5 separate regions of the Homo sapiens genome follow, and regions 1, 2, 4 and 5 are each linked to region 3. The links come from fine-mapping of genetic effects on gene expression. A gene starts in region 3. Each other region holds a variant in brackets. All regions are shown on one strand. Distances are from middle to middle. Region 1 overlaps LOC105375567 (a long non-coding RNA gene). Region 2 has its middle 43 kb from the start of AOC1. Region 3 holds the start of TMEM176B (transmembrane protein 176B). Region 4 holds the start of LOC124901773 (a long non-coding RNA gene). Region 5 overlaps LOC105375566 (a long non-coding RNA gene).

Evidence for each region.
Region 1: its variant is fine-mapped to the expression of TMEM176B in whole blood (TOPMed, PIP above 0.99).
Region 2: its variant is fine-mapped to the expression of TMEM176B in whole blood (INTERVAL, PIP 0.98).
Region 4: its variant is fine-mapped to the expression of TMEM176B in transverse colon (CEDAR, PIP 0.95).
Region 5: its variant is fine-mapped to the expression of TMEM176B in whole blood (INTERVAL, PIP above 0.99).

Annotation. Positions count from the first base shown.
Region 1 is chr7:150,820,844-150,825,927 of GRCh38, reverse strand. LOC105375567 (a long non-coding RNA gene) reads left to right here. Exons shown (of 5, transcript XR_928171.3): 4 at 334-629; 5 at 2,214-5,084. Among named protein-coding and RNA genes, the nearest start is that of TMEM176A, 23 kb to the right of the region's middle. The variant A/G (reference allele first, on the strand shown) is at 3,094.
Region 2 is chr7:150,892,483-150,897,586 of GRCh38, reverse strand. No RefSeq gene overlaps it. Among named protein-coding and RNA genes, the nearest start is that of AOC1, 43 kb to the right of the region's middle. The variant G/T (reference allele first, on the strand shown) is at 2,973.
Region 3 is chr7:150,797,967-150,803,070 of GRCh38, reverse strand. TMEM176B (transmembrane protein 176B) reads left to right here and starts at 2,707. Exons shown (of 7, transcript NM_001101312.2): 1 at 2,707-2,773. It overlaps TMEM176A (transmembrane protein 176A), which reads right to left and starts at 2,302. Exons shown (of 7, transcript NM_018487.3): 1 at 2,243-2,302; 2 at 1,347-1,535; 3 at 746-856. The coding sequence starts at 1,520. RefSeq lists enhancers at 1,611-2,310, 2,311-3,010, 3,011-3,710.
Region 4 is chr7:150,414,996-150,420,099 of GRCh38, reverse strand. It overlaps LOC124901773 (a long non-coding RNA gene), which reads right to left and starts at 4,763. Exons shown (of 2, transcript XR_007060587.1): 1 at 4,455-4,763; 2 at 1-2,237. The variant G/A (reference allele first, on the strand shown) is at 2,601.
Region 5 is chr7:150,763,856-150,768,959 of GRCh38, reverse strand. It overlaps LOC105375566 (a long non-coding RNA gene), which reads left to right. Exons shown (of 4, transcript XR_928163.2): 3 at 2,984-4,108. Among named protein-coding and RNA genes, the nearest start is that of GIMAP5, 29 kb to the right of the region's middle. The variant C/T (reference allele first, on the strand shown) is at 2,454.

The DNA.
Region 1 (5,084 bases), 23 kb before region 3:
GGTTCTGCTAGGAAATGGCATTCTCAGAAGGAGGAATATCGAGTTTAAAAAAGGGACTATTTACAAAGATGAGGCAGGGGCAAGGACATCACCAGAGGAGGTGAAGCACCTTGAAGCTAAGCGTAGTTGGAGGCCATTTTCACCCCTAGGTAGGTGAGAAGAGGCAAGGAGAGGGCATGGCTAATAGATCGGGGGAGACTTGCAGGACACAGTCACCTGACCAAATCGGTGGCTTTTGGCAGAACAGTGCTAAGCCAGGCTGTGATCTGGCACAGAGGAAGCCAGGGGAACAGATACTTCGATCTCATTCCTTTCTTTTGTTTTTGTCTTCAGGGCTGGCTACATACTCTGTTGGGAAGAAGGCTCAAAAATGAATCCTCTCAAGCAGACCCGCTTTGGTTTCCACCCCTCTATTCTGAGAACCCAAGCTCAACCCATGTGTTCTGCCTTCAGGTAGAAAATGTCAGAATCATAGGGAAGACTAAGCTGAAAAAAGAATTTGGAGTTCCAAAGGAATTCTGTGCCACCTGCCGTCCGGCAATTCCCTTTGCCAGGTAATGGCATGACAGTAAAGACGCACTCTGTTCTGAATAAGCAGAGAACCGGCTTGGCCTAGGACTTACGTTGAGGTGGGTAATGTTCGAAAAGACCCATTTGCTAGGGCATCTCAGGGAAGGCACAGAAGCCTTTGCAGGCGAGGCTGCAGAGAGAAGAAAACGCACGGGAGACAGTCCTGATTCCAAGGGGTTACAATTGGTTGGGGAGGCAAGGCAGCCACAAAGAAAGCACAGCATGTTTGGGCCAGGTGGGTGCTTCCTTAGGACAGCACTGCCTGTTTGGGAAACAGTTGTAGAAACAGATGGGACAATCCTTGTCCATCGAGATGGGGTCAGAGTGACTGCACGAAAATATGGCTACCCCGAGTTACCATGGCTACCAACACTTGCCCTCCTTCCATGCCTACCAGGCAGGGTGGAGGAGCTTGTTCTTTCTGCAGCCTGACCCAGGAGAGGAGGTAAAGCAGAGGGCTCCCAGAGGCCGCCCTTGTAGGTCCTAGCGCAGCAGGGTGACGCTGGGCCAGGAGGGCCCCGGGAGTGGGGTGGGGGAGGGCCACTGGGTGGAGGTGCCCTTCAGGGCTGCATCTCGTGGCGCCGGCTCCAGTTTCACTTCGGCTCCTGACCCTCAATTCCCGTCTGCGGCCCGGGGACCTCGGCCTTCTCCCCAGCCACCTTGCTGGCTGGCCCTGTCTTCCCAAGGTCAAGTTAAAGAACCAAGGTGTGTAAGGTCATGTCTTCCCAGTCAGGGGGCCGCCATATCTTGGTATCCAATGGACAACCTGCCTGCCGCTCACTCTCTAAAAGCCAATGATGAGGGAGCTATGTGCTAAGCCCCGCCTCCCCACCCCATGAATGTGCACAGCACCACCTCGTGTCCCAGTAGCGCAGCTTTGGGGAGTTTGGAAACACTCCTGGTTTGGGATTCACTCAGCAAATATTTAATGTGTGTGTGCTGTGGCCAGGTAAAATGCCAGGTACTATCTTCCTCTACATGGCAGGGACAGACATGTGTTCCTCAAGCTCACTGGGGATAGCACCACCTTTCTAAAGTTCCTCTCATCTGTTGCCCGGCCTCCAAACCCGGTGGTCCTTTATTAATTCAGCTGTGGCATGGGCGTTCATACTCTCAGCTTCCTTTACTGCGTTTCCTACTGTTTCTGGCTTCAAGTTGTTGAAGTCAAAATAAAAAAGTAGAGACTGAGCTCTAAATTTAACCGTTTATTTGGGAAGAAAGGATTGCCACTTGGGACACACATGCACACCGTAAGAACAAAGAGAAGGCTGGAGGTTTTACCGAATGTTACCCATTGCTCTTTGAGAAAGTTCATTGGCACTAATAAGGTTCTAGGGAGCTGGCAAGTTTCAACTGGTGGGCAATGGCATTGGGCAAAATTAGTCCTAGAGTTGCAGCAAGTTATCTCAGCAGGGTAGATAAAACTGGTCTCAGGTTACAACAGTTGGTTTCAGCAGTTAGACATGCGGAGAATTACATTCTTGGAGCAATGCTATCTTTCCTGAGTGCTTTTCCCCCTGGCTTTTTGACTTTGTTTTAGTTGGGTATGACAAAAATGACCCAATTCATTTGATCAACTTTCGCAAACATTTCTGCAACTAGCGGCATCCCTGATGTTGGTTTTATTTTGTTCTTCTTGAAAGTGTTACCAGATGGTGCTGTGCAGCTCCAGGCTCTTAGTGTCCTGACCGAAGAATTGGACGAGATACACACAGATAGCAAAGCAGCAAAAGTGTATGACGCATAGTATTACACTCCCAGAGAGGGGAGAGTGGACTGACCTCTGCGAAATGAGATCAACGTCAATTTGGTGTACTTTGAATTCTTTTATATATTTTTTCTCTTCTGTGGCCAAGACTGCCTGATGTCTAGCCAGTGTCTGCCTTTTGATGGACAGGTGGGCTGCTTAGTTATTTAATACTATGGCCCGTGTGCGCTTGTGACTTCTTGCGAGTCACCTCCATCCCATAATTTTAAGTACGTGCATAATATGCAGTCCATATGCATGAACCTTAAGTAGCTAATTACCATACGGGAACATTTTAAGGATATGTTTTCTGTCTAACGTGCATGCTCATCTCTGAGGAGCTGCCCCTGACAGGTTTGGTCCAGATCTAGGCGGCCATGTGGGCTCCTTACTCACTTTTTTAAAATCTCACTTTTGTTTTGGCTGCTCAGCCTCTGCTTCATATCTCACTTCTTGCTCACTCGCCCCTTCACCTTGCTTCTGCTCTCATGCTCTCACTCATTCTTCCTGTATCCAGTCTCTGGTTCCCTCTCTACCATCTCCTGCCTCAAAAGTGCTGCTCAGCATATAATTTCTCTTTGTAAGTTGTGGTTCTTGATTTTGGGAAATGAGTTTCCATCTTGCTGAACTTCTTAACTAGAGAATACTGTTGGGATGTGTCTACATCTATGTGACACTACTGGGATCCCTTGAATCCTATTTAGAGTCTAAAAGAGGGACATTGTTACTTAAAGGCGGTGGCCATTTAGCTGTCCCTCTTAGATTTGGTTCATATA[A/G]TTTCTGATTTTCATGTCAGATTATAATCTGTAAACTCCTACTCAGGTCACTGCACCACTTTGATGGAATTTCCATTCCCTTTGTCCTCAAGATTTGTCTAAAGATATTTGGCTTTGACAGAATTTTGGGTTCTTCAGTTTTCTTTTTAATTATAAAATATACATACAAATGAACATTAAGCATATGTAGTTGTGTGAGTAATTATAAAACAAACTTAATGTATCACCAAATCAAAGAATAGCTCATTGCCCCAGAAGCAACCCCAGTCCCCTAATAACAACCCCTCCCTTTCTCCCTCTCTCCAGAAATGAGCCATATAATACCTCTTGTGCAAATTACTTTTTTGCTTTTCTCTAGATTTTTTTCCTTTTTTGTAGGCATTCCTGAAGGATATAAGTTGGTTTCGTCTGTTTTGAACTTTCTATAAACAGGGTCTTACCAAAGATAATTTTTTTGTCTTATTTATTTTTCTTAATTTTATGTAGTTGTAGGTTGTTCATTAGTGTGTAATTTTCTACTCTAGGAATTTGCAACAATGGGTGTATTCATTCTAATGATGATGGATATTAGTCTTGTTTCTAGTTTGGGGATATTATGAACAATGTATTTATAATCCTTTCTGCACACATGACCTTGGTAATTCGTGTATCTGGGTGTATACCTTGAAATGCAATGGTGGAGTCATAAGTCATATATTTCAACTTTGCTAGTTCATGCCTGTTTTTCAAAGTGGTTGTACCAGTTTACATTTCTGCCAGCAGTGTACAAGAGTTCCCATTGCTCCACATCCTAACCAACACTTGGTATTGCCAGACTTTAATTTTTGTGGAATATTGTGGATTTAGTTCATGTTATCTTATTGAGGTTTTAATTTGACTACCTGGTTTATTGATGAGGTTGAACACATTTCCACTATTTATTGGCCATTTGGGCTTCCTCTTATGTACAGTGTCAGATCTTTGGCAATTTTTTCTGTTGGGTTGTCCGCCTTAATGATTTTTAAGAATTCTTCATGTGAAATTGCTGACACTTGACCATTTTTGACTTACAAAAAATGGCAGTTTCATATGATTCAATTTAACACCTTCTGGAATTGGTCCTTTGTTATTTATGTGTTGACTAATATTTTATCAGATTATGTGGCTTATCTTTTCATTTCCTTCCTTCGTTTTTTGAGAATCAGAAAGTTTTAACATTAGTGGATTTGGACTTATCAGTCCTTTTCTTTATGGCTGGTGCTTTTTATGTCTTGTTTGAGAAATCCTTGTCTTTGAGGCTAAAGGTGACCAGATTGTGCTGGGGGACTGGGGCTGCATTCTCAGGGCATTCTACTTTGGGCCCTGGGTCACATTGCCTCTGCTGGGGAGGAGGCAGGTTTCTCTGTGCCCCTAGCCTTGACTGGGTGGGGGAGGGAGGAGAGGCCACTCCTGGGCTCTTTGTAGGGTAGCACTCATGTTTTCAAGAAGATCCTTTCCTGTAGATTGTTTCCACACTGTTCTTTCAAGTGCAGAGGGTCTTCCTAATGAATCGGCAGCCCTGCATCTCACTGGGCCAGGGTTGGGGCAGGAGTAGGCCAGCATCACGGTGGATGTTCAGCTAGGGTGGGCTGTGACGGGGGTTGGCTCCAGCTCAGAACTGGAAATCCTGTTTGCTGAATTGTGTGTCCTAGCCGATGAGGTGGGACAAGGAGAAACTGGCTGAAGACAGTGAAACAGTAGGAAAAACCCTGCCTGCCCTGTAACTCTGGGGCCTGGGGGATGTAATGGTGTGATTCTGACTAGTTGGCTGGAGCAGAGCAGGTAGCCTGGGGCGCGCCAGACGAAGACTGGAAAATGTCATGGCTTTTTGGCCCTCACTCCTCAACGTCACTGTGGGTTGGGGGAGGCAGGGGACTGTCCAACCTGTTCACAGTTCCCTTTCCAGTGCTGACAGTGCCTGCCACATGAGAGATATTAATACACATTTGTTCAATTAATGAATTAATATTTTT
Region 2 (5,104 bases), 95 kb before region 3:
TTCCTTACACTGCTTGGTGGGTTCTTCGTGGTCCTCCGCAAAGAGGGTTTGGGAATGGCGGGTGTCTCTCTCACTCGGAGCCAGCCCCTGTCTCTCTTCTGCACTGTTCCTGAGCCTGGGGTGGGTGTCTGGAGCGAATGGACTGGATTCCTCCCCAGCCCCAGGGTCTCTGTCTCTGGTGAGGGGCAGGTGGCTGTGTGTTGAACAAGCCTCTCCCTCCTCTGATCCACAACCAAACACATACAGGGATGTCCCGGGTAACTCTGGGAGTGTCCCTGTCTCTGGCCCTGCATTCTGGGGTCTGTGAACTGCAAATTGCTAGATGGAGGGATCTGCCTACCCCAAAGGGGAATTTCCAGGGAGAGGGATCTGTCCACCCCAAGGGGTGTGGCCAGGGATCCTCCTCCAGGAGATGAACCCCACAGACATGACTTTGGGTCCAAGCACCATCAATGCCATTTCCTGGGGCTGCATGGCTGGGAACCAGTTTGCCGACCAGTCGGAGCTAGATAGGGAGGGGGCAGGGCCGAAGTGGAGGTCTCCCCCTTTCCTTTCACTGCCTTTCTACATGCGGTGCTGGTCCTGGATCTGTTGTCCTGAGACTCTACACTTGTCCTCTCCCTCCTCTGCCATGTCTTGTGGGGACAGACCCCTGCAAGTGGTATCTCCCACACTTCCAGGTTCCACCCATGGGAGGCCTGAGCATGAGACAGAGGGGGCTGGACCTTCTCTCCCTTTCTCTCCAGCTGCGACAGACAGGCCCCCAGGGCTCCCAGCTTCCACTGGTGACCCGGCTGCAGGGTCTGGGAACTCCACGCCCTCCCTCTGCCCCTGCCTCTCTGGGCATTGCTGTCTCTGGAGTACCCACCCTGTTTATCTCTTAGTTCACCCATCCTCCCAGCTTCCAGTTCCCTGAAGTCCAGTGTCTCCGTGCTAAGTCTCCCAGCAGTCCCTGATTCCCAACCCGTGTGTCTTGCTGGATCTTCCTTCCCCACCTTAATCAGGCTGGCGCAGATCCCACCATAGTTTTTTGATTGTGTTTGTGTGTGAAACAGGTCTGTCAAGTTCAACCAACATCTGACATCCAGTTCAGTTTTGCCTCTCCTCCCAGCTCTGCTGGACCCCAGGTCCAAGGCTCCTACCCTGGGGAGGGGCAGGTCTGGCCGTCCCCTCCTCTCTTCCTCTCCCACACCTGCTGATGCTCCTGGGGCCAGGATGGAGGGGAGGGGGCTTGGAGGAAAAGTGGCCCCACTGGCGTGGCCATTTTTGCTTACATGGACCCTTGGGCTCTGGGTGGCTGATATGCAACACTGGCTCTTCTGCTGGATGCAGGTGTGTGTTCTTCCGAGCATCATGGACCTGGACCTGCACAGTGCCCTGATGACCTGTCCCCTGCTGTCCACCCCACAGCCTCTAACTGCATAGTTCTCCTCGTCTGCCTGGCTGCCCTCTTAGAAGGGGGTGTTACTGGATTCCTGTGGCCACCACCACAAGGTGCATAAACTGGGTGACTCAAAACAACAGAAATGTATTCTTTCATGGTTCTGGAGGCCAGAAGGTCAAAATCAAGGTGTTGGTAGGGCCACGCTCCTTCTGCAACCTCTAGGGGAGCATGCTTCCTTATCCATCTGGCTTCTGGTAGCCCCAGGTGTTTCATGGTTTGTGAAAGCATCACTGCAATCTCTGCCTCTGTCTGCATATGGGCTTCTTCTTTGAGTGTGTATGTGTCTCTCTGTGTCTTCTCTTCTTCTTATAAGGACACTGGCCATTGGATTAGGGTCCACGCTACTCTAGCGTGACCTCGTCTTAACTGATCACATCTGCAAAGACCTGTTTCCAAATAAGGTCACAGTGATAGGTACCAAGGGTTAGAACTTCAATATATCTTTTTGGAGGACACAGTTCAACCCACAACAGGTGCAGACACACCTTGGAAATATTGTGGGTTCACTTTCAGACCCCGCAATAAAGCAAATATTGCAATAAAGTGAGTTATAAAAATCCACTGGTTTTCCAGTGCATATAAAAGTTATGTTTATATTATACTGTGGCCTATTAAGTGTTCAATAGCATTATGTCAAAAATACAATGTACATACTTTAAATTAAAAAAATCTTTATTGCAAAAAAATGCTAACAATCATCTGAGCGTTCAGTGAGTCATCATCTTTTTCCTGGTGGAGGGTTCTGCCTTGGTGTTGGTGGCTGCTGACTGATCAGGGTGGTGGTTCCTGAAGGCTGGGGTGGCTGTGGCAATTTCTTAAAACAAGAAAACAATGAATTTTGCCACATCAATGGACTGTCCTTTCATAATATATTGCCTTGTAGCATGCAATGCTGTTTGGTAGCATTTTACCCAAGGTAGAACTTCTTTCAAAATTGGAGTCAATTCTCTCAAACCCTGCTGCTGCTTTATCAACCAAGTTTATGTCATATTCTAATTTTTTTGTTGTCGTTTCAACAATGTTTACAGCGTCTTTACCAGGAGTATATTCCATCTAAGGAAACAGGCAGGATGTGGTGGCTCATGTCTGTAATCCCAGCCTGGAATCATCCCAGGCCTAGGTGGAAGGATCACTTGAGGCCAGGACTTTGAGACCAGCCTGGGCGACATAGTGAGACCCTGCCTATATATAAAAAAAAAAAAGAAAGAAAAAGAACCAGGCATGGTAGCATTCACTTGTTCTAGCTATTTTGGAGGCTGAGGTGGGAGGATTACTTGAGGAGCTTGAGGCTGCAGTGATTCATGATTACATCACTGCACTCCAGCCTGGGCAACAGAGCAAGACTCTGTCTCAAAAAAGAAAATAAAAAAGAAAGAAGAAACTGTTTTCTTTGCTCATTCATAAGAAGCAACACCTCATCCATTCAAGGTTTTTTTTTGTTTGTTTTGTTTTGAGATGGAGTCTCGCTTTGTTGCCCAGGCTGGAGGGCAGTGGCACAATTTCAGTTCACTGCAACCTCTGCCTCCTG[G/T]GTTCAAGTGATCTCCTGTCTCAGCCTCCTGAGTAGCTGGGACTACCGGCACATGTCACCATGCCCTGCTAATTTTTGTATTTTTGTAGAGAAGGGGTTTCACCATGTTGGCTAGGCTGGTCTTGAACTACTGACCTCTGATGATCCGCTCACCTCGGCCTCCCAAAGTTCTGGGATTACAGGCTTGAGCCACTGCGCCTGGCTGCCAGTCATGTTTAGTCATGAGATTGCAGCAACTCAGTCACCTCTTCAGGCTCCCCTTTTAATTCTACTTCTCTTGCTATTCCCACCACATCTGCAGTGAGTTCCTCCATTGAAGTCTTGAACCCTTCAAAATCATTCAGGAGGGTTGGAATCAATTTCTTCCAAACTTCTGTTAATGTTGCTATTTTGACCTCTTCCCATTAATTACAAATGTTCTTAATGGCATCTAGAATGGTGAATCCTTTCAGGAAGGTTTTCAATTTACTTAGCCCAGATCCATCAGAGGAATCACTATCTACGACAGCTAGAGCCTTACAAAATGTATTTCCTAAATAATAAGACTTGAAAGTTGAAATTGCTCCTTGATCCATGGGCTGCAGAATGGATGTTGTATTAGTGGGCATGAAAACAACATTAACTCCTTGCATGTCTCCATCAGAGCTCTTGGGTGATTAGGTGCATTGTCAATGGGCAGTGATATTTTGAAAAGAACAGTTTTTTTCTGAGCAGTAGGTCTCAACAGTGGCCTTAAAATATTCAGTAAACCATTCTGTAAACAGATATACTGTCATCCAGGCTTTGTTGTTTCATTTATAGAGCACAGGTAGAGTAGATATAGCGTTACTCTTAAAGGCTCCAGAATTTTCAGAATGGTAAATGAGCATTGACTTCAACTTAAAATCACCAGCTGCATCAGCTCCTAACAAGAGAGTCAGCCTGTCCTTTGAGGCTTTGAAGCCGGGCATTGACTATGAATGTCTCTAGTTATGAAAGTCCTCGATGGCATCTTCTTCCAACAGAAGGCTGTCTTATTTACTTTGAGAATTTGTTGTTTATGTAGCCACCTTCATCATTGATCTTGGCTAGGTCTTCTGGATAACTTGCTGCAGCTTCTCTTTGCACTTTGATGTTATGAAGATACCTTCTTTCCTTAAACCTCATGAGCCAATCTCTGCTGGGTTCAGACTTTTCTTCTGTAGCTTCCTCAACTCTCAGCCTTCATAGAATTGAAGAGAGTTCGAGCCTTGCTCTGGATTAGACATTGGCTCAAGGGAATGTCGTGGCTGGTTTGATCTTGTATCCAAACCACTAAAATTTCCTCCATATCAGCAATAAGGCTGTTTGCTTTCTTATCATTCATGTGTTTACTGGAGTAGCACTTTTAATTTCCTTCAAGAACTTTTCCTTTGCATTCAAAACTTGGCTAACTGGTGCAAGAGACTCAGTTTTTGGCCCATCTTGGCTTTTGACATGCCTTTCCCACTAAGCTAAACCATTTCTAGAGCTTGACTTAAAGTGAGAGATATGCAACTCTTCCTTTCACTTGAACATTTAGAGGCCATTGTAGTGTTATTAATTGGTCTAACTGCAATGTTATTGTGCCTCGGGAATTGGGAGGCCCAAGGAGAGGGAGATAGATGTGAAATGGTCAGTGAAGCATTCAGAACACACACAGCATTAACCGACTGAGTTCACCGTCTTACACGGGCATGGCTCACGGTGCTTCAAAACAATAACAGTAGTAACATCAGATCACAGATCACTAATCACAGATCACCCTAACAGATATAATAATAGTGAAAAAGTTTGAAATATTGCACAAATTACCAAAATATGACCCAGAGACACGAAGTGAGCACTTGCTTTTGGAAAAATGGTGCTGATAGACTTGCTCCATGCAGGGTTGCTGCAAACCTTCAATTTGTAAGAAATACAATATATGCAAAGCGCAATAAAGCAAGGTGCAATAACATGAGGCATATCTGTATCTTCAAGAGGTCCACAGGCCACTTTCTCTGGAGTTTCCCGTCATCCTTGTCACTATAAGAGGTGGGTGTAGGCTATTCCCACTGCCTGGCCATCTCAGGCTGCTTGGCTAACCGGCCACCTTCAAGCTTCTGGCAATAAGTAGGCACCAGTCTCTAAAT
Region 3 (5,104 bases):
GGGTGCTGGAGAAGATCTCAATGAAGGGTGAGTCTATACAGAGTGGGCACTGTTAGGTCTAGAAGCCTGTCCTAACAGTGCCCAATAATCCACTCAGCTGGGCTTGAAGAACAGGAAATCTAGTATGTCCCAGTGGACAGGTGGACCTGAATCCTGTTTGGCTAATTCTGTAATTAAGCTGGGTATTTTGCCACAGGCTGGGTGAAGGTAATTACTCTCGGCTTCTGTCAGTAAATATGAGTGTTTTAGTGCTATTCTGAGAGTGTAGGTACCATGACCAGCCTACCCAGCTCCTGTGCAAACTGCACACACCCATCTGTTGACAACAATTCCTGGGTTTCCATTGTGTACAGGGCCTGTGGAGGACAATGAGAATAACCAGGGGGTGATGCTTCCTGGGGGACCACATACTATCTGGAACGCTCTGCCTTCCCCATCTCAATGCAAGTATCTGGAGATGAGCAGGTCCTTAGATCCTTAGTTGACATTAACTGTTGAAGGCAGGGAGAGGCAGCCAGCCTGGTGGGAACAGCACTGGGAAGGGTATGGGAGAGCAGACAGTGTGAATAGGACATGCCACCACCGCCCTCAGCTGTTTGCTCATCTGAACAGGCAGGGAATGGTCCTAGATAATCAGATCTCTCCGACTGCCAGCATTCTGTGGCGCCATGTTGGAGGAAGGCAATCAGGAGAGCAATGCCCCACCCCTCTCACAGGCAGTCAAGCACTGTCCTGCTCTACTCACCACAGCCCCTGTCCAGATGGCAGCTCCCGAGGTGACGAGGAGGGTGTAGTCGCGGATGTAGAAAAATCCTCCTAGGACTGCACTCAAGATCCCCAGCACGATCTGCATCACCTGAAAGACAAAGGACCCAAGATCCCGGCTCCTAGGTGGACCTGCCACTGCAGGGATTAACCGCTAAAACCCCAAAAAGAGAGGGAGAGGTAGAGAGAGAGAGAAAGAAAGAAGAGAAGAGAAGAGAAGAGAAGAGAAAAGGAGAAGAAAGAGGAGGAGAAGGAGAAAGAAGAAGAGGCAGGAGGAGGAGAAAAGAGAAGGGAAAGGAAGGAGAGGAGAGCCGGCCCATCCTGAGTTTGGCCCAGAGGAAAGGATGGACTCAGGGCTCCACTGATTGGGACTCTGCATGGTCAGTGGCTCCTCCACACCCCTTCAGCCCAGAGCCTCCCCTCCCCAGGCTCTTACTGAGAAGGCCAGAGAATCACATCGCTAAGTAAGAAGACATAACTGGCTCGGTGTCCTGTTCAGAGGGAGGCTGGCAGAGAGTGCTGCTGCGGCTGGAGGTGGGGAGTTCCTCCCGCCGCCCGACGAGGCAGGCCGTCACACTCACCCACGAGGCCACCAGCAGCCGGCTGCTGCCCCTGGCCTGGGTGGCCCGGGGCCGCAGCGCAGAGCAGCAGGTGAGCAGGAGCTTGGCCAGGGCAGACTCCTGGTGGATGTGCACATCGATGTGGGTGTGCTGTGGGGCCTCCGGGGCCATCTCATCACTGTCGGCTGTTCCCATTGTCAGGGACACAGTCTATGAGGAAGGGAGCACCAGAGAGGAACGGCTGTCAGAAGATTTTCGCAGATTTCATTGGAGTTGGGGAGGTCAGGGGCCAGTGGTGGCTCAAAGTCACCCAATGAATGGCTGTCCTGGTCACAGGGCCGCACCCCTGGCCCCTCACGAGGGGAATGTGTGTAGCAGAGGGGGTGCTGACCATGCTGGAACTGCGGCGACTACAGAGCCTGCGGGAACCTCCCCTTTCGCCCAAGATCTGCTCTGTCCCCCTCATCCTCCTCCCAGGGCCCTGGCGTCTGGGTCAAGCAGCGCCCCACACCTCGACCCCTCACCCCCTCCTCCCGGGCTCTTCCTGCGGCCTCCCCTCCACAGTCCGCAGGCTCTGGGACAGGACCGAGTCCTTGGCTGCCTGTGGAGCTCCTGTGCCAGCAGCTGCGCCCCGGCTGCGCTCCGGATACCCCCATCCCCGCCACCGCCGACCTCCCGCTCCACCGACTGCTGCTCACGCCCGACGGGTTCACGCCGCCCCTGCCCCGTGAAGGACCGCGCTGCGGTGCGGAGGTAGGTCAAAAGCCGGGGCCGCACCTGGCTTCCTCTGCAGTCCCCTTCCTGGAGTGTCATCCCTGGGTGGGGGTCCCTCCTACGCTCCTCCAACTGTGCGGAGGCAGCTCGGGGTGCGTGCGGAAGGAGGCCCGGGGGCCGCCGGGAGTGGGGTGCCGCCTCACCTGCGCTCCTCGGGACCTGCGAGCGGGCGGCGGGAGGGCTGGGGCGCTGGCTGGAGAAGTGGGTTGAGAGTTGGAGGGGGAGGCGGGGAGGGGAGGCGGGGGTGGGGCTGAACTTCAGCCCCTCGGGTTCATGACAGGCTGCAGGGCCTGGGGTCCGTCTGGGGTTCTCCTGCTGCGCGAGGGTCACTGGGCTCTGGGGAGCTGGGAGGGTCCGCGGGCGGACGGCCCTGGGAAAGCCCGTGGGGTCGTTCTCGCCTCCAGCCCCGCCCGGCCAGGGCCGGCGTGCAAGTGTGCGCGAGTGGGAGCGCAGGGGGCGCGCGGGGGCTCGGTCTTCTCCCGCCCGGTCCGCTCCTCCGGGCGGAACCCCCTTTGCCGGGCCCCCGGGCCGCAGCTGGTTTCGGGAAACCGCGCAGCCTGGGCGGGGCCGCAGCCCCCACCCGTGCATCTGCCGTCTCCGCCCTCCCGTCGCTCCCCTGCTCGGGGTCAGCTAGTGTCCGCTCTGCTCGGCCGCGGGCTCCCGGAGGACTGCAGGTGAGGCAGGGCCTCCGCGGCCCGGGAGACCCTCTTGCCGCAGGACCCTCTGTCACGAGGAGTCCCCAGGGCCATGCCCCCACCCCGTCCTGTCCACAGGACGTCTTTCTTCCTCCAACCTGGTTTCCAGGAGGACTCACGTAGGAGGGAGGGACAGCTGGGTGCAGGTGTTTCTCCCCAGAAAAACGGCTGGAGAGCGGGAGGAGAGGCCTGGGGCTGGCGCGTCCCGTCCACCTTCTGCCGCCTGCACGCCTGGACCCTGGCTGGAGCCCTACGGTGGGGTGGCTCCTGGGACGGGGCCAGGGAGCGGCGGGGCTGCCGGACGCTTTCCCCAGCCCCGGGGCACGGGAAGAGCTGGACAGAGGAAAGTGTTCGGGGCAGCCGGGAAGAGCCCACCACCTACCAGGCGTCGGGCGGCCCGCAGGGGAATCTCCGTGGTGCCGGCCTGGTTCAGATCCGACTCTTCAGGCGGGGGCGAGGCAGATCTAGGGGTTGGCGTGGGGCGGGGGAAGCGGTGGTCCTGGGGGCCCGGAGGTAGCTGGAACCCGAGGTGCCCTCAGGGCGAGGCCTGGGCCGTCAAGGGAAGGTCTGGCTGGAATCTGGGGCTGGGCTGGAAGCAGTCTGAAGCTCCTTTGTACGTGTGCGGAATTGTCTAACTCCTGTCCTTTCTAACCCCAAGGAGGCCAGGTGGGTGAAAGAGTGAAACTGCTTTGAAAAGTAGGTAGAGTACGAATGGGAGGTGTTATTAGAATTGTTAATAATATTTGATTTAAACTGTGATACTTAGCCAGGATGTCCATTAGAATTGCCTATGCAGGATTTATTTTAGAGCCAGGCAAGCTGATTCTAAAGTGCATGTGAAGAAGTAGTCTAGCAAAAATGGCCATGACAATTCTGAAAGAAAAACCACACGAGGGGATCATGAAACAGCCCAATTAGCATTAAGCTCCATGTTAAAATTGTGGTAATGATGCCTAGCCCATGAGACATGCCAATGGGCAGAATATAAGGACTAGAATAGGCCTACATTCCTAGGGGAACTTCATTTCTGCTCAGGAGAGAATTTTAAATCACTGAGAAAAAGAGGATGTATTTTCCGCAAATGGAACGTATCTTTCAGAAGTTAAACATCTGAATGACAGCAACAGAACTTGGATCCGTGTCTCCCAACGGCGAAGGTTGGTCACCCAGCTCCCAAATTCCAGATGGTCGGCATTTAAAAGTGAAAACTGAAAGCATAAAGGCACTTAGAAGAAAATGTGGAAGATTATTTTATAATCTCGAAACGGGGAAGTCCTTTAAAAGTGTAAGAGCTAGACACCATAAATAGAATGAAATAGAACATGGATTGTATGAATATACAAGCAAGGTCAAAAAATAAACTTCAAATTGTAAAGAAACATTTGAAACTCATATCACAAACGGTAATTTTGTGAATAGATAAAGAACTTCCATAGAAAAAAGCAAAACAAAACAAAACGAAACAAGGACATAGGATGTGAACGGAGAGCTCACAAAAGAAGAAATAAAAATGGCCCTGAACATATGAAAAGACAACCAACCTCACTCATAATAAGAGAACTATGGGCCAGGCGTGGTGGCTCACACCTGTAATTGCAGCACTTTGGGAGGCTGAGGTGGGAGGATTGCTTGAGTCCAGGAGTTTGAGACCACCCTGGGCAACAAAGCAACACCCCATCTCTCTCTCTAAAAAAAGAGAACTGGCCGGGCGCGGTGGCTCACGCCTGTAATCTCAGCACTTTGGGAGGCCGAGGCGGGCGGATCATGAGGTCAGGAGATCGAGACCATCCTGGCTAACACGGTGAAACCCCGTCTCTACTAAAAATACAAAAAATTAGCTGGGCTTGATGGCGGGCGCCTGTAGTTACTCGGGAGGCTGAGGCAGGAGAATGGCGTGAACCCGGGAGGTGGAGCTGGCAGTGAGCCGAGATCGCGCCACCCTAGCCTGGGCGACAGAGCGAGACTCCATCTCAAAAAATGAATAAATAAATAAATACATAATAAAAAAATGAAATAAAAGAAAACCATGGATTAAAAATATATGGAAATCATTACAGAAAGCAGGTCAGTGGTTGCTCATGGCCAGTGGTTGGGGGTATTTTCTGGGGAGGGGCTTTAGGGAATGTATTGCTGTGTAGGAATGTCCTTTATCTTGATTGTAGCTGTAATTGCACAAATGTGTAAATTTGTCAAAACTCGTTGAGATATACATTTAAAATGGGACATTTTTATTACATAAAATTGATTAAAATCAATGCATTTTTCCCCATATAAAAGGAAAAAGATAAAAGAGTTTGCCTCCTGCATGTG
Region 4 (5,104 bases), 380 kb after region 3:
GGTCATGTTATACTTTTTCTTTTTTTTTTTTTTTTTGAGACAGGGTGTCGCTCTGTTGCCCAGGCTGGAGTACAGTGGCGCGATCTTGGCTCACTGCAACCTCCGCCTCCCAGGTTCAAGCGATTCTCCTGCCTCAGCCTCCCAAGTAGCTAGGACTACAAGCACGCACCACCATGCCCAGCTAATTTTTGTATTTTTAGTAGAGACAGGGTTTCGCCACGATAGCCAGGCTGGTCTCCAACTCCTGACCTCAAGGGATCCGCCCTCTTCAGCCTCCCAATGTGCTGGGATTACAGGCGTGAGCCACCATGCCCAGCCATGCTATACTTTTAAATACATTTCTGGGTTTAATCTGCTAATATTTTATTTTGGATTCGTACAATTCTGTTCCTAAGTGAGACTGGCTGAAAATTTCTCTACATGGTGCTGTTCTGCTCTGGTTTCGTCTTCAACTTTTACTAATCTACCTCATTAAATGAGTTTGGATGTGTTTTTCCCCCTACTCGCTGGAACTGTTTGTATGTGAGAGCTTATCTTTTCATTAAAGGTGGACAAACCTCCTCAGTAAAACTATCTGGGCCTCCTATCTTAATTAACTTAAGGGAATGAAGGTTATATTTTTGACCACTGATTCAGGTACTCTAATGCTTATAGGTATATTCAGATTGGTTTAAGTTTCTTTTAGTAATTTATATTTTTCTAGAAAATAATCCATTTCATATAAATGTAAAATAGTCATAAATTGTTCACAGTATTTTATCATGATTTTTCAAAATCTCTATTGTATCCATGGTAATCATCTTCTTTTCATTCCTAGCATTGTTTATGACTGACTTCTCTCTTTTTTTTACTTTTTGCAGAGGTTTGTCTGTTTTATTTGTCTTTTCAAAGAACGGGTTTTGGTTTTACTGAGTCTCTTTAATATTATTTTTGTTTTGTAGTCCATTAATTTTTATCCTTATTTTTTTCCTTCTTTGGCTATATATTCCATTATTTTTCTAACTTCTTAAGTTGAATTTTTTTTTAAAGAGACAGCATCTCACTCTGTCATCCAGGCCAGAGTGAGGTGGTGCAAACATAGCCTCGAACTCCTGGGCTCAAGGGATCTTCCAAGTAGCTAGGACTACAGGTGCATGCCACCATGCCCAGCTAATTTTAAAAAAAATTTTTTTAGAGATGGGATCTCGCTACGTTGCTCAGGCTGGTCTCAAACTCCTGGATTCAAGCAATCCTCCTGCCTTGGCCTCCCGAAGTGCTGGGATTACAGGTGTGAACCATCCCACCATGCCTGGCCTTAAATTGAACTCTTGACTTTTTGATTTTCAAAACGTCTTCTTTTCTGATGAATACATTTAAAGCTAAACATTTCCTCTAGTTGATTTCAGTTGTATCCACAAGTTTTGAAGTGTAGCATTTCACAGTAGTCATTAATTCATAAATATTTCATTATTTCCATCACAATTTTTTCTTTGATTTGAATTATTAATAAATGTGTTTTTGAAATCCCTGAATGTGCCAGCCTGGGCAACAAAGTGAGAACCTGTCTCTACAGGAAAAAAAAAAAAGTTTTAATTAGCCGGGCATAGTGGCACATGCCTGTAGTCTTAGCTACTTGGGAGGCTGAGGTAGGAGGATCCCTTGAGCCCAGGAGTTTGGGGCTGCAGTGAGCCATGATGACACCACTATACCACTCCAGCCTGGGCGGCAGAGTGAGACCCTATCTCAAAAAAAAAAAAAAAAAAAGAAAAGAAAAAGAAAGAAAAAAACCCTGAATGTATACAAGTTTTCATTTGCTGTCTTTTGTGAATGACTTCTATTGCATTGCGTTCACAGAATGTGACCTACCAGTGATGTGTAGTATCTGTTGCGACTTGCCTTATTGCCTAAAATAGCACCGCCATATTAACTGGCCCTGTTTCTTGATTTTCTCTTATTGTAAAATGTCCTGAATATGCTCCGACAATGGCCAAGAAAACAGTCCCATTTTATAATACTCTCCAGGCATGAGGGAGAACTCACTATAAATACCTACCCACCAGGGGGAGGCAGTATGGAACCCCAGGAGCTCCAGAAGTGATATTTTGGTTGTCCAAGGGTCCAGCTCTATGTCCAGAACAAGAATCCCATCAAGACAACCTTCATGCAACCAGGCCAGCCATCTCTTCATCGGGAGCTCCCCATGTCAGACACTGGGAGCCTCGGGCCTGCAAGATCACATCCACGCCCTCAAGTTACACCTGTGAAAGTGAACCAGAAAATGTTGCACAAATATGATTTGTCATTGATTGGAGATCAAGCCAAAAACACATGAGAAACTAATCTCAAGAAAATGAGAGAAAAGGGAACACAGGGCATGCGTGATAATTTACCAAATGACAAGTTTGCACGGCAAAGTATGGGCTCTGAGCAGGGAGAAACCACAGAGTAGTAGCCAGGCAAGCCGGAGAGCACCCCAGGCCTGTCCATAGACACCCCCTCTGAGACTAACGCTCACCATGCCCTTGTGAATAAGTCCCTGGGATTGATGCTTGGGACCTCTGTCACTCGGGCCATAGCTATGGGACCAGGGGATGTGCCCCAGCCTAGGGAAGCCACCTCGA[G/A]GCTCACAGATGACACAAGCAGAGCCAGGAGAAAGGATTCTGCCTAAGAGATTCCCTAAACAAGACTGTGAGCAACCACAGTACAACCTCCCTCGGGGTCCGCATGCGGCATAAGGAGAGGCACCTGCAGAAAGCAGAGTGCTGAGGAAGCTAGAGGAAGAAGAAGGCAATTCCTATGGAGAGGTTCACGGCTGCTAGGTGCGGTGGCCCACGCCTGTAATCCCAGCACTGTGGGAGGCTGAGGCGGTGGATCACTTGAGGTCAGGAGTTCGAGACCAGCCTGGCCAACATGGTGAAACCCCACCTCTACTAAGAATACAAAAATTAGCCAGGCGTGGTGGCAGGCACCTGTAATCCCAGCTACTCAGGAGGCTGAGGCAGGAGAATCACTTGAACCCAGGAGGCAGAGGTTGCAGTGAGCCGAGATCACACCACTGCACTCCAGCCTGGGTGACAGAGTGAGACTCTGTCTTAAAAAAGAAAAAAAATGGTTCATGGCTGAGACCCCCGTAACAAAAGCCAGGTCAACAAGGGAACAGCATACAAATGTATTTAATATAAATTTCATGTGACACAGGAACTTCAGAAATAAAGACCCAGCCGGGCGTGGTGGCTCACGCCTGTAATCCCAGCACTTTGGGAGGCCGAGGTGGGCAGATCATCTGAGGTCAGGAGTTCAAGACCAGCCTGGCCAACATGGTGAAACCCCGTCTCTATTAAAAACACAAAAAAGTAGCCAGGCGTGGTGGCGCACGCCTGTAATCCCAGCTACTCAGGAGGCTGAGGCAGGAGAATCGCTTGAACCCAGGAGGCGGAGGTTGCAGTGAGTTGAGATCGAGCCATTGCACTCCAACCTGGGCAACAACAGTGAAACTCCGTCTCAAAAAAAAAAAAAAGAAAAAAAGAAATAAAGACCCAAAGAAACAGGAGAAACTGTCTTCATGCACAGTCGTGCAGATGTGTGATTGGAGGACAAGAGGGTGTGACTTATGCTAATAAACTGGGGGACTTAGCAAAGCCTGTTTGTTCAGATTCTTCCTGGGGTCTCTGTAGGGCACTCCTTTTCTCCAGGGATAGGGAGGATGCTTCTGGAATGAGGGTCTTATGACCTGCTTTAGAGGAAGATCCGAGAATTCTTCTATGGCCTGCTTCGGGGGAGACAGGCGAGGGGAAGGGCAACGTGGCCTTCCTGCTTCTGCCATTTTCTTGATGCCAAGATGCTATATTTTGGGGTGGCATGTCCTGAACCCTGTTAAAGCCAAGAGCAGTGGCAGAAAGGAGAAGAACAGGCATTGGCCATGCACAGCAGACCCCATGAGTGAGCACCAGGCCAGAGGTGGGAAAAGCAGCAGCCAGTGCATCGCCTTGGCAGCCTGAAATACGGTTCTCACGATGTCATAAAGACGGAATCCTCCGCAGTCCCTGGGACTATATGTAGTCCATTTTCCCTCTGGAAGCCCCATACGCTTCCTCCTGCTCCGTAATTTCTGAGAGCACTCATGTGCAGCGGAAGCTGTCACCTCTGTCCATCAGCCAGTCCCTCCCCCACCTCTCAGAACGCCTGTGCACCATCATGTCACCCTCTCCAGAAGACTCTCTTGCCCCACACATGGACACAGTTTTCACTACTCCTATAAACTCAGATTCTCTTGAACCCACATGCTTTAAACCCCATCTCAGGGGACCCTGTCATCCCCCAGCAGGTTTCCATGTGCCAGGGGAAGGACCAGCTCAGCCCCTCCCCACTGAGAGATTTTCAGGTCCTTCCCACACCCCAGAGGCCCCTGTCCCTGATGCTCTGCCTTACAACAGCCTTTTGACAGTGATTGTTATGAAACGGGAGAGCAAACACACCAGCCTGAAGTGTCTGTGTTTGAGATGCTTTCCAAGTCCAAGGCCAGTGCAAGAGTAGCAGTGTGTATTTGTTTAGTGTTGGTTTAACTGCAAGGGCCTGATGACCTTCCAGAAACAAAGAAGTTCTGCTCCAAGGTGACTTTCTGTGTCTGCTGCTAGAAACTGCTAGCAACTGCAGTTCTCCTGCTTAAAGAAAAAAAATCCAGTTTCAGTTCACCAAGCGTCTGTACAGAGCAGAGATGGTGGTAGCCTAGCGCAGAGCAAAACCCGAGTCACAGGAATGGTGGCAAGCCTAGAGGAGCAGGAGCAGCGTCCCAGGGACCTCTCCAGCCTGCCCCGTGAGGCCTGGCCACTCAGCCGAGCTGGGGGGTCACCACCCAAAAGAGGCCTGCACAAGCAGTCGGGGAAGCACCCAAGAAGAACCTGAGGTCGGCCAGTCCACCCCATTCATTTCATGTATCAGAAACTGAGCCTCGAGATGGTAAGGACCTTGGCCAAAGACATGTGGTCAGACTAGACCCCAACCCTTGACCTGTGAATTTGACTCTTGTCCCTTGTTTCCAGTGGAGAGGGGCTTCAGCACAGCTGGTGAGGGTCACCAGCATTTAGGTCCTCTGGCCTGGCCTCTCACCAAGGAGATGGTCACCTCC
Region 5 (5,104 bases), 34 kb after region 3:
CTCAATGTCTGGGAAGTATACCAAAAAAGCTTTATCAAGACATACCAAATGACTATAAATTGTATGTCTTACTCTTTCACTGAAAGGTTGAAAAGTATCCCATTTAACCCATTATATCTAAAATATTTGGAAAAATTGAAATATTATGAACTTTGATAAACCTCTGTCAATCTATTTAAAAAAACTTTTTAAGTGGAAAATTCTAAATACATAGAAGTAGAAAAAATAGCGTACTGAACTCAACGTATCTATCATTAGGCATCAACAGTTATACATGGGCAATCTTGTTTCATCTAAACCCCTATCCTTTCCACTCCTAGTTTTTATTATTGTTTTTATTTTTTGAAATAGGGTCTCACTCTGTTACCCAGGTTACGATGCAGTGGCATGATCACAGCTCACTGCGGCCTTGACCCCCGGGCTCAATGGATCCTCCTACTTCAGCCTCCTGAGTAGCTGGGACTACTGGTGCATGCTACTATCTTCCGCTAATGTTTTAAAAAATATTTTGTAGAGATAGGTCTGTGTTGCCCAGGCTGGTATTAACTCCCAGGCTCAAGCCATCCTCCTGCCTTGGCCTCCCAAAATGTGGAGATTAAAGGTGTGAGCCACCATACTCGGCCCCTTTTGACGTTTCTGACAAACTTCCCAAGATTAATTTCTAAATTAAGCCTTTTTTATTGATCTTGAACTAACTTTGGGACTTTTGAGATGGGCTCCTGGAAAATGTGAAAGAATTTCTCTCTCACCTTGTAAAAGAGGGACATTAAACTAATTGGCTTATTTGATATGTTAAATTATGTGGGAAGCACTGTCAAGTAAAAGTGACGTTTAGCTTTCTTTATATTTATATGGGCACATGTTACTAATAAGAGTGTTTCAGAAATAAAATTCTTTAAAATTTGTCAATACCCTTAGCTATTCATCATATGTCTGATATAATGTTATCAATCAGAATTCTACATCTTATTTTACAATGTTGTATGTCACAGAAATAACCAAATTTCCTCATCAATTAGATTGTAAGAAACTCTCATTAGATATTTAAATGTGACTACTTAAAAATCTTTTATAATTTACATGTTATTTTACTGTGATATTTTCCTAAAAGCTTTTGCAAGCCACTATGGTCAAAATTTGTCTTCAAAGAGATCATGGAAAAGACTCCAACAAGTACAGGTTTTTGATAACTTTAAGATCCCACCATTGGCCTGGGTAAGAATTTCCAGAACTCTAATGAAGAAACTGACTGGTTTGTAAAACTGTTAACCCGATGTTGGGCAAAACAAAAATTAATTGGATGGGACTAAATGAACTGATGAAAAAAAATGATGCTTTAAAAAATTACCTTTTTTCAAAACATTGCTCGTTCTTTAATATTTTGTTTTCCAGATCTGAGGAAATGTTTTCTCTTTTATCCTACGCTATCTGTAGTTGACCACAATCTGGTAGATTATGCATTTGTAAACAGAAATAAAGCATTTGATTTTCTCCCTACCTAATCCCTCCAGAATTTGAAAATGATGAGTGAGTATTCTTACATTCATGACCATAGTTGTTTGTATAGGTCCAATAAGAATCTATCTGTTTGTAACAGGACACAATGGAAAACATTGGTTACATTACCAAAGCTTTGGAATGTAATTTTTAGAATGTCATAGAATCAGATATGACTACACAGTTTTAAGAAACTAAGGATGACTTTGTGGGGCGAATAAGGCCCCTTAAAAAACCCCCAGCCTGGTACCTTGCTCACAGAGTTCCTAGCCTTATAGTTGAGTAAAGAAGGTAACTTTCATGCAGGCCCAGGAGCCTTAAAAATATTTTGGAGACCTCGAGAACAGAGGAACTCACCCAAATCTAGAGGTGTTACAGGCAAAATCTAATGACAAGCTCTTGGCTTGGCTTCCTAGACTTGAGAGGCTTTTAGATTCCTTATTAGCAGTTCCAGCAAAGCAGACTTAAAAAGAGCCTATACGATCAATCACTATTCTTGCTGCATTATATAAATAATCAAGACAAGTTTAATGTGACTAGACTTATTTTGTAAAAAAATTAGTCTTACTGTGATTATGTTTGGTAAAAGTGGGAGTGACTGTGGAGAGAAAAATTATATTAACAAAAACTATAGTGTACCCGTTATTGGATTCTAGTACTGTTCATTGTCTTTGAAGTTTTGTTATCTATATGTAGAATGGATTAGATATTAAACTCTAATTTCCTCCCATATCCGGCAACAAATCTTCAGGCTAATGCTTCATGTTTTTCTCCTACTCTCTTGACTTGACATCACTGAAAACTGAAGCTGCCCTTTTCCTGAAATTTTGCAAGCTGAAACTGGATGACTTGATATAAACTTCAGAGAACTCACTACCACAACTAATATATAAGCAACCTTTGTGCCTGTTGCTGTGTAGGCCACTCAGAAAGTCCACTGGAACACCCAATGACCT[C/T]ACCAGAGACATTCAAACTGCAAATCAGGAAATTGATCAGAATTACCACTGCTTATCTTCACTCTCTATCTAAAGATGCTTTGAGCCCAACCTATAGTACCCTTTACCAACTGATTGCCCTCTGGACTCAAAAGCTGGGCTTATAACTTGCCCTAAACATTAACCTTTATTTTTCTTTTGTTTCCATAGAAATGCCTCTTATTGGGCTGGGCGCGGTGGCTCACGCCTGTAATCCCAGCACTTTGGGAGGCCGAGGCGGGCGGATCACGAGGTCAGGAGATCGAGACCATCCTCGCTAACACAGTGAAACCCCGTCTCTACTAAAAAACACAAAAAAATTAGCCTGGCGTGGTGGCGGGCGCCTGTAGTCCCAGCTACGCGGGAGGCTGAGGCAGGAGAATGGCGTGAACCCGGGAGGCGGAGCTTGCAGTGAGCCGAGATCGCGCCACTGCACTCCAGCCTGGGCGACAGAGCGAGACTCCATCTCAAAAAAAAAAAAAAAAAAAAAAAAAAAAAAAAAAAAAAAAAAGAAATGCCTCTTATTGTTTACATTATGAAGTCTCAACTTGGATGGAAGCCCAACTGCAACACGGCCTCCTAAAATGAGACGCAACTGTTCAACTGAACTGTTCTCAGGACTAAAAGGCTGTGTCAATAAGATACGGGGAATATTTGTTCTTCTGTGTGTTCCGATCCTTGTTTTTCTTTCCCTTCGTTGATCTCTTGTTTCACAACTTCCAACCCAAATCTGCTCACAGCTACTAACTTGGCTTTTAACATATGAAACTTTCTAAAAGTAAAGTTTCAAATGGGGAATGAAGAGGCTCAGAATACACTACCCCAAAACATGTCACTCAGAACACATCATCCCCAAATATGCCACTTTGGCATCAGAATTATTTTAAACTAAAGGCACATAAAAACAGGAGATGCAAGAAGATCACTCTGACCTTCACTGTTCTTTAAAAGCCAGAGATGAAATTCCCATGTGAAAGGTGTTCTCCCTAAACCAAGAAGAAAGTAACATTCTCATCACAAAGGATAGGAAGTTGAGGCTGATAGGAATCTATACAAGCATCCCTTATGTTCCTAATTACTTATTTACCCAGTTATTTACCCTAGCATAAGCCCCTTTGCCTTGTTACATTTTCACAATTCAGGGCATAAATGTTTGACTCTAGCTGCTGCTTTGTGTCTTCATTTCCTTATGAATGCTCTCCTGCCATTAAAAAACTTGCATTAAATAATTTATATACTTTTCTCCTGTTGATTTGTCTTATGTCTATTTAATTCTCCAGGCCCAGGCAACAAACAAACAAACAAGAAAACAAAACAAAAACAAAAAACCCCCAACAACAACAACAACAAAACCATAAAAGAGGAGGGGCAAATTTTTGCCTCCTCTTCTGCATTTTTCACATGCTTTATCCTGTTTTCACTTCTTTACTTTCTGGCACTATAAGGTGTTCCAGGCTCATCTTATATTTATTTTCCCTATCCTAGCCCTGGAATCAGCCACTTCTACACTTCTTGAAGGAGTCCTGGTTCCTTTCATCAGGGAACGGCATTTCGAAATCAAGATCTGAGTGCTGGCTGTGCTCATTGCTACTGGTGTCACTGCTCATAGTCTCCTCTCTCTCAGTGGGCAGAGCTAGGTAATTCATGTATGTATAACTGACCCATATATGCACACATATTATATTTTTGTATCTACTAAAAATAAATCAACCATGAGTTCATACTGATATTTCTAACTCCAGTCCAGCACCAGGATTTATTCTAGCATTATCTCTGCTTATTTGTAACTTCTTTCTGACAATGAGAAAAGTGGATCCCATAGCTTACACTATATTTAATTATTTTTGAGCCCAAGTATACCATAGGTTTAGGGTTGTTTGTGAAAAACGAATTTACCAATGAGAGTTTGTTGCTTCTGTACTGTTCTTCTTGTCTTTGGCCTGACACTCTCCAGTCAAAACATTGCTTTACAAAGGCACTTAGGTCAGCTCGTTTCTTCCCTCCTAACTTCCGTATGGTTATGTTTTTTTATTTGTAATACGGTTAGATTCATTTTAGCAGTCCGCTTTTCATCTTGGATTTCCCCAAGATCTCAGTTGATTTTTTAAAAATTTGTATACAGCAAAGTTTACCCTTTGTGGTGTATAGGTTTATGGGATTGAGAAAGGCATAGAGTCACGTGTACAACAAGACAGTTTAACTCAGAACAATTGGACTGCCCAAAAGTTTCCTAATGAGGCCCTTTAGTGGGGCATCATTTCATAGGACTCCCCCAACTCCAGGCAACCACGGATTTGTTTTCTATTTTTATAATTTTGCTTTTTCCAGAATGCCATATAAATAGAATCATTCAGTATGTAACATTTTGGATTTTCTCTCATTTAGCAAAAAGAATTTCAGATTCATTCATGTGTTGTGGGTTGATACTTTTTATTGCTGAATGGTATCCCATTGTCTGGATATACACAGACTTACTTACCCTTTCATCTGTGAAAGACAGCTGAACTATTTCTAGCTTTGGTAATGAATAAAGCTGCTATAAACATTCAGGGCCAGGCACAGTGGCTCACGCTTATAATCCCAGTACTTTGGGAGGCTGAGGCAAGAGGATCAACTGATGTCAGGGGTTCAAG